Linked DNA regions of Homo sapiens: region 1 is linked to region 2. Evidence: fine-mapped expression QTL. A gene starts in region 2. The other region holds a variant in brackets. All regions are shown on one strand. Distances are from middle to middle. Region 1 overlaps ZNF366 (zinc finger protein 366). Region 2 holds the start of ZNF366 (zinc finger protein 366).

What was found. PIP is the estimated chance that this variant, and not a neighbour inherited with it, causes the effect.
Region 1: its variant is the best candidate, but not a certain one, in a credible set for the expression of ZNF366 in monocytes (Quach 2016, PIP 0.53).

What each region holds. Positions count from the first base shown.
Region 1 is chr5:72,470,469-72,474,865 of GRCh38, forward strand. All of the region lies in intron 1 of ZNF366 (zinc finger protein 366), which reads right to left. Among named protein-coding and RNA genes, the nearest start is that of ZNF366, 35 kb to the right of the region's middle. The variant C/G (reference allele first, on the strand shown) is at 2,611.
Region 2 is chr5:72,505,464-72,509,860 of GRCh38, forward strand. It overlaps ZNF366 (zinc finger protein 366), which reads right to left and starts at 1,947. Exons shown (of 5, transcript NM_152625.3): 1 at 1,788-1,947.

The DNA of each region.
Region 1 (4,397 bases), 35 kb before region 2:
CACTTCTCTGAAGCCTATCACAATTGTTGGATGTTCCACTCATTGGCAGGGTCCTGTGCTGCCAGTCACCTTTCTGTGTGGGTGGATGTCCTATATTTCTAACATAGTTTGGTTAGAAAGTCAGAAACTTGCCTGGTGCCTCATACATGGTTCAAATCCAATCATTACTTGGAAATTTACTTGACAAATAACCGTGTCCTAGGTTTCTCTTGCTCCCTGATCCCAAGCAAAATTTTTCCATTTCCGGAAGACAGGACTAACTGGTTGACTTGTCCTGTCCCAGTTTATCCCAAGCCAACCTCGCGTAAATTAACTGCCAAGAACATCTCCCATGAGGAAGGTGCTTTAGCCATGGCATAGCAGGGACTGGGGTAGTGCTCCTCAGAATGGATGGCCCCTGCTTCATCCTGGCTCAGGCTCCTTGGCCAATGAGTGGCATGTTCCTTTGATATGAAAGATAGAATGTCCTGTTTCACTGAAATAACATAAAGGAATGTGGGAAGGTTCTGAAAATGCCCAAGGTGACAGTGGGCAAATGCCAATGAGTCTCTCAGTGAGTATGCAACCACAGAGTAAAACACACCCACATTCCTGCAAATACAGTGTGTCCTGGGGGAGCAGGCCACCATGATTTCCCTCACTGACTCAATAGCTGCAGATTCCCCGTGACTCTCCATGCAAATGCTCATTCGCTTTGTGGAAAAGCCCATCCTCATGGGCAGATGGGTCTGTGACCCCACTGTTCACTGTTTCTTTTTATTTTATGTAGTAGACTTCTTGCTATATTTCTGCCTTCTGATGAATGATCACTCTGCATCTGGATACCTTTTCTCCCCACTTTACATTTTTATTGTTCCAAGTCTTCTCATTCGTCTGCTTCATATTGATTTTTTTCTATTGATTCTGCTCACTAAAATCATTCTTATAAAATATACATACTGATAAAATACATGCACTTATCTCCTTGTGTACATGTACAGATAGCCTAGCTCTAGAAGGAAATAGAAGAATCTGGTATTATCTGCTGTCTCTGGGGAAAAGGACTGTATGGCTGGAGGAGGAAGGTTTGGGAGTGAAGCAGCTGAGTTACCAATTTATGGAGGGGCCGTTCCCATCATAGTCTATGGGTGGGTGCCTCTGCAGCTGTTCAGTGCCTGGGTGGAAAGGAAACTTTTAATGGTATACTTTTGCAACTTATACTTCTATACACTGTAGATGACTTAGCTATTCAAACACTTGCATTAAAAATGTAAAAATTCATATTGGCTTTCAAACAGCAAACACTCAGACAAAATTAGACTTGGGATTCCCTTCCTTTTGAGCTCTGAAAAATTCTCTTGAGGCATTTTAATAGACTCCTTGATTTTTCTGCCCAAGGTCTTAAAAAAAATTTTTTTTTAAGAGACGGGGTCTCACTTTGTTGCCCAGGCTGGTCTTGAACTCCTGGCCTCAAGTGATCCTCCAGTCTTAGCCTCTGCCTAAGGTCTTTGGATGCTCCTGTCAGACTTCACCCAGGCTTTTTCTTTGGGCATACAGTTTTATGACCTAGGCTTGTATCATCAGGAAAATAAATACAAGCCACAGTAAAAACTCAGACTGTGAGGAACTGCCCTGCAGGTATTCACTCAGCAAACTGCTTCAAGTGTCTCTTCTGTGTCTGCACTATGCTGGGTGCCAGGAGGACAATGTCTTATAAACCAAAAACTAGGTTCAAGGAACTCACCATCTAGTGAAAGAAACTGACAACCAGATGTCGTGCAAAACATTTTAGGAGCTACTAGAGGAATATTGAACTGGTTGGTTGATTTACTGAACATGAGAGAACAAAAAGCAGAACTACATTTCCTTGACTAACATCAGAAACTATTTTCTTTCAAAATGTTCTTTTTTTGTGTGTTTTTATTTAATCATTAAAATGTCAGTTAAAACAACATGAAAAGGATGAAGGACTATCTTTGGATGTGAAGGATGAGAGAAAAAGTTTCCCCTTTCCCAACCAGTGCCACAGCCTTCCCTACCAGTGGGTTCTGTAGAACAGAGGAAGAATTTGGGGACTTGCAAAATTAGGCTGACCTTCAATTAACTGCATTAAGAAAGCCAGTAAGTATAAGTCCAAAAATGAACTGCAGTTAACCTTGAAATAAAGAAGAATCGGTTAGAAAGATTCATAGTAATTACAGAATTACACACTGCAAATATGATTAATCCAGTTTCTCCATTCCAGCCCTCCGAGTTTCTCCCTGGCTTCTTCCCCAGTGCTGAGAGGGCACTCTGGCGTGTCAAGGGTGAGCCCTGTAGATTTTGGCAATGTAAAGTCCTTCCCCGGGGCCCTAATGTAGTTGAGTTGCTTAAAAGCTGCTTTCAGGGTAAATGAAAAGTCCAGTCCTATTTGTACCACTGTAGAACCACACAATATCAAAGTGCAAATCATGCCCCAGCCCTCAGACAGAATCAGTCCCCCTTCCTCTCAACTCCCACAGACTATGCCCACACCCTCGAGGGAGCTTCCTCATGGGGTATTGCATAATCTAACCTCCCACAACACTGGGATCTCCTTGAAGCCAGGGACCATTTCCTAAACCTTTCTGCGTTGTCACTATCTTATACAAT[C/G]ACCAGTACTTAACATTTGTAAGTGATGGATTTTCAAATTGCTATAATTTGCTAGTCTTAAGAGAATTTTGTTCTGTTCTTTTACAATAAATAGTAGATAAAACTGCCTGGAATGTGGATATGAGGCTGGAGGAGGAGCAGCCATATTGGAACAATGAGGCAACAATGCTTCCTACCATGTATGGTCAAGAGGTAGAGGGAGATTGTCAGTGTGGAGCTCCTGTACCCACTTGGTGCTGGTCTTCTTGTTATTTGAGAAAATGAATCCTTTACTTGGTTAAGAAAATGTATTCAGAGTTCTGTGGCTTGCAGCGAAACACAATCCTTATCTGATATATAGAGCAAATCAAATGTCAATTCCTCTACCTGACTGTCAAAGTTCTCCATAATCAAGTCCAACTCTGTTCCCCTTCTCTCTAAAATCCTGTCAACTGCAGTCAGATCAGACTTTCACAATTAGCTACAAGAGGCATAATAATTCCTTCCTCGTTGCCTTTGTTTAGACTGATTGGCCATCCAGAAATGTTCTTTTCATTGACCCATTCCATTCTTCCCGGCTGAACTTAAGTTCAGCTTCTTCCCGGAAACCTTTGCTCCCTACTCAGTTATCTGTCTCTTGTTTCAAATCCTATGACATTAAACCCACTGATCCCCGGGTTAAATGTATGTTTTCCCCCTATATTGCACTCTGATTATTTTGTGTTTAGGTTTAGTGCTTAACCAGTGCTTAAGCTCCCTGCAGCCTAGGATTCATACTCTCTTCTGTCATTGCACCTTGCACTGTACTGGTCACCATGAAGATACTCAGTAGATATCCCTTGCTTGGTTGTGATCCTCTTACTATGCATTGCTATATCTGCCTTTGAAAAGAGGTTTGTCTGTGGCTTGAAGAGCACATGTGAATTTAGGTTGTATCTCCATCTGGCAAATTAATGTTGCCATTGGTTGCCAGTTCAGAATCAGAATGAATTAATTTGCCATGTGGAGAAATTTGCAGCAGCAAACATTATCATTATGGCTTATTTATTGCTGTGAGCACTATGTTGAATTTGCACATTGTTTAAAGAGCATTTGTTGGTACTGGAGATGAACCTTTAACCTCTTAAATCTATGTCTTTGGCCTCAAGAAGATGAGATCAGGAGTTTCTGACACTGTCTCAGAAGCACCACAAAGGCCAATTAAAAGGCTCAGAACTCTCAGGCTCCTGCACGGAGCTGGGGCAGCTAAGCCATCCTGAAAGTCTCCTTGGAGGGCTGTGGTTCTCCACTGCACACAAAGGAGAAAGGACAGGGGAGGGGGGAAAATGCCACTGTTGATTAAATCTGTGAGGGTTTAAGTATTCTTCCACTACATTGAAATAATCACAGGACTTATATCTTGGACAGGTTTGTATCTCTCTTTTGGGACTTAAACTGTGAAAATAAAAAAGGACATCAGAGTAAGGGAGGGAAAGTCCAAATTCAGAAAGGAAGGTTACTGTAATTTTTCAGTTTTCTATGTTAATTTTTTTAATAAGATTTCATCACATTCATAACCTTGCTTTCTTTTTCTTTGTCTCAAATGTACACCCATGCACACACACACACACACACACACAGACACACACACAAGCCATGTAAAGTAATCCAAGTTGCTTATTCTTTGTGTGTGCATTACATTAACAAAATAGGGGGTTCCCTTCAAAGATATAGTTCCCTTAGCAACCTTACTGGAATTTCCTTCTCTGTATGGAATCCTCCACATCTTTAACCACAGAATCCACTTACTATTTGGAATTCTAAGTCTG
Region 2 (4,397 bases):
GCAGTGGGGCTGTTTTCTGAGCCACTGGCCTACCCACCTTGTGCTTTCCTTGTCTTTAATTTAATTGCCTTCCTTGTCTTTAACAAATGACTCTGCTGTCATTTGTTTCCTATTGTGTTGCATCTGATGCTTTTACTCAGTAAACAAAACTAGAATGTGTTCTGTGATGTTGTTTTAGTTGAGCACAAAATTCAATACATTATCAAGAGAAATGAAACTGAAAGGAGCAAGTCAAGATCGCAGACCTGCGTTTTCTTCTGGGGCCACAGTTGCTGATAAATGATGCAATAATGCCCTCGACAATCTATTCCAGCTACCTCTTGATCTGAAGATCTATGGAAATGGAGTAGTTAGGGGAGGTGGTAGGGTAGCAGTAAAACACTTTCAATTGTTATTAGAATAATTTTGCATCCGCAAGCTGGCAAACGCTATTCACGTCTCTTTACATTGCTCGTTTTATGATGCTCCTAAAGAAAATCCTTGAAAAAAGGAGAAGAAAAAAGAGGTCTGACTAATGGAACAAAAGCTACATCACAGTCTAGTTCTGTCATGTTTTCTCATCCTTAGTAAGATGATGGTTCAATTTTGAATAAAGATTAATTACTTGAATGTGGTTAAAGCATAGTCTAGCCAAATTAATTTTTAAAATGAGAGTCCAGCTATTTTTATCTTATTCTTCACATCCCAGGTGATTTCAATCAGTAAATTTCATAGCAGTGAATATTTTTAAAAAGTATGCTTGGCCATTGGCTTTTACCCATTCGGCATCTCTCTGAATTAAAGTATTAATATTGGGAAACATAACGAGTCTCTCGGAGTGACCTTGCTGACCTATTTTTGACAACATGATTTCGGCTCCCTCATGGCTTGCGATGATAGGTGCTGGTAACATTATCCTTTATGACTAATCTAATTGAAGCAAGTTAGACTTTTAAAAACTAGTTGTGTATGTTAGCTTGACTAGCTTGCTACGCCCTATTTGGTGCTTGGAAAACCAGGCACTGGGTGAATGCTTTTCAATTGCGTCTGTAACTTAGTTTTTCCCTCCTACTGACATAAATGATCCATCTTAATCCTCCCATTCTAGCTGCATATTGTTTTCCAAAACTAAAGCTATATGCCCCAAAACCTTTGCCTTCTATCATGTGGCAGATGACATCTTCCACTGACAGTGAATAATAAATTTACACTCAACCCGCATGGGGAACCTGAACACATAAGCTCCCCACATGCAGAACTATTTCCAAGTGACATTCCCTTCTCTCTTTCCCTTCTACTTCAGTGATGCAGAATAACCATCATATAACAATTAACAATCCTCCTTTAGGGGGATGCTGAATGGAAAGAAAAGAACAGGAGAAGGGCACCTCAATCCAGGTAACGTATTAACAAAAACCCCAGAGCAAACCACAGTCCTTAACAGACACCCTGATAAGGCTCCCAGGACACAGTACTGAGGAAGAGCAAATTCTCCAGTGGGACACATCTCACACGCCAGTGGCTCCTGGTTCTCCCAGCCACATGATCTGTGCCAAAATTCAGATTTAACGCAGTGTCCTCTTTAGTCCCAATGTAATTCTATTTCTAGTTTTGCCAGCCTTAGTTCTGCAAAGCATCAGTATTCTCTTACCAAAAAAAAGTATTAGCTGAAATTCTGGGCCATCTATCACTTATACCCTTTGGTTAAGGACTACTCCCAGTAAGGTATTTTCTGTTGAAGATGCCCACAGCAGTATCCACCCAGGAACCTTGAAAAGGAAGCAGAAATGATTGCATGGGTAACTTACCAGCTCCTGAGGTCTGAATGGCTGCAGCAGCCCCACTCCTTTACCTGATCCCTGCTCTCTCTGTCTCTCTCCCTCTCTCTCTCCCTCTTTCTCTTGTGTACAGATTGCAGGGAACTTAAAGAACTCGCAGGGACAGTGTTTCGAATGACTTAAGAAAGAGAACAGGAACAATACTTCGTTCTCTTTTTCTCAGATGAGTACCTTCGGGAAGAAGGAAGGAAGGGAGGGGAGAGGGAGGAAGTCAACAACCCTTTGCTTTCCTGAAAAAAAATAAGGAAACAGAAGATAGACATCTCATTTTCTCTTAAACAAAATGTTGGAAGGGGCAAAAAAAAAAAATCTTTGAAAAAAGGAATTCCTCAAATATGTTCTCTGCCCTGGGAGCTTTAAAGAGATGAAACGCCTTAGTGGCCTGTCCTGTCCAAACAAACGGTGTTCCAGACAGGCAGGCTCTCCTGAGCCTGCAGCCTCTGGTATCTGGTTTGCAGAACTGACACAGCCGAAAGGGAACAAATCATGTCATGTCGACTTAGAGCAAGGGAGAGCTTGGCCTGTTGTGCTAACCAAGGTAAACCTGCAGCCTGTAAGACAGTGTCGGGGCTGGGCAGCCAGGACTCCTGGCTTTTCTTAGGCCCTTTGAAACACCAGCATTGCTGCAATTCCTCGCTGACTCTAGATCCTTAGAGTTTTTCCAGGATCAAATAGCAGATTTATGCCCACCGAACTTTATACAGTGGACCCAATCCAGCTTCCATCACTGATGGATGAAAAAGGAAAAGAAGCAACTAACCACAACTGCTGCCGGCCATGGTTATCTCAGATCTGTTGTTTATATTATTCTATCCTCTACATTCCTAAGGCGTCTTGGATTTAATCACCTCTGGAAAACTGGAAGGAGATTTCTAATTTGTTTTCAAAATACTGTGAAGCAGCATAGGGTTTAGATAAATCAGCCATGGTGTTCGAAAAAAGATAGGGGAGGCAGGAGCAGTTAAAATGGAGGGAGTAACCTTTATCAAGGTAGAAGACTTGGGGCTTCAGCAGGCAGGCATGAGCTTGCTTAGGCTAGTTGCACTTAGGAATAAGCTTGGTTTTAACTTCTCTGATTTGTGTTATGTCTCTTGTGTCCCTTATTCATCTGGTTAGGACCATTTTCACTGTGAACAGGAACCAGCAGTTATGTAGACCTTTGTGGCAGCAAAAGAAAAACCAGCCTTACACTACTTCCTCATTTCACCCAACTGTGAAAAAAATGGGGTGGACAGATACACCTGATTGCAAAGAGTCATGAAAGTGAGTTCAGGGGAAGAATGATTCTGATTCAGTGACCCTGTAAGATTTTGATTGAGTCCTTATTGGCCTATAGGATTATGTTTTTATTCTGACAGATATTTTTCTATCATCTATCTGTCTATCTATCATCTATCTATCTATCTATCTATCTATCATCTATCTATCTAATCTATCCATATATCTATCTATCTCCCTGTCTATCTAGTTATCTGAATATGTGTGCATGTATCAGAGAGAGACATGAAGATTTTGTTACTCGGTAGGTGTGCACAAGCCAGAGCAGAGTCCCATTCCTTGCATCCGCCACAGCACCAACACTGGCACAACCCATGGCACTGAGTTCTGGCCTGGGTGACCCAGCCTCACCAACAGTGGGGAACACGGATGACCAGAGACAGTCTCTTTGGTTCGCTTAGAGCCACACGCCAACACGTTCCTGTCTCCTGATCCCGGCTCTCGGGCTCTTTGCCCTCTGCTGGCCTTCCTCTACATCCTGCCTTTGTAGAAATGGGAAGGGAAATGAAAATGAAAATCTGAGAAAGCCAGGGAAGGGCATGAGGGAATGGAGCAGGAAGGCCTAGGAATGGAGTCTTTTAAAGGGGGAGAAACACTGGGGCAAACCTTTGAGTAACCGGAGGTGAAACAAGCAGGCAGCTGAAATTCACAATAAAAAAGCAGACGTCCTTGGGAGTGAGGTGGGGTGAGGAGAAGCAATAGGGAGGGGGCAAGGTGTGCGGGGCATCAGCAGCAGAGGAAAGGAGGGACCCAAGGAACAAGACGCTCATGGTACCAACTCCTCACAGGCAGGAAACCGCCTCTGATCACTTGAAGAATCCATTGCAGCTGCACACAGGCCTTCCCATATTTTTACTCCTCTTTGCACCCTCAAGGCAAGGCCAGGGCTGAGCCCCAGGAGTCCAGGCAGAATCCAAAGGATTTCCCTTTTAAGTCTGCAGAATGTGGGGACTGTCACGTTGAGGCTGTGTTGTTGTCTCCAGGCCAGCTGACCCGCCCAGACAGCCTGGATGGGGACATGTGCCATTTCAGGCTGCACGGCTTTGACTGAATGGGGCAGCATCCAGTCGGGATCTGACATCATCCCCGCAGCCAGCCAGGGGACTCTCAAGGCTGCCTTGTGCCAAGCTGCTCCATGCTCACACCGCGTTGCAACCCTGCCTGTGAAATTCACAGAAAAGGCTTTTCCCTCTTTCCTTGTGCTGCCAGTCACCTGAACAGTCACCCTCTAAAACTTGTGAAACCACCCACTGGGTGTCAGGAGCAGAAATTCCTAACCCTCCCATTAGGTTTGGCAGGACA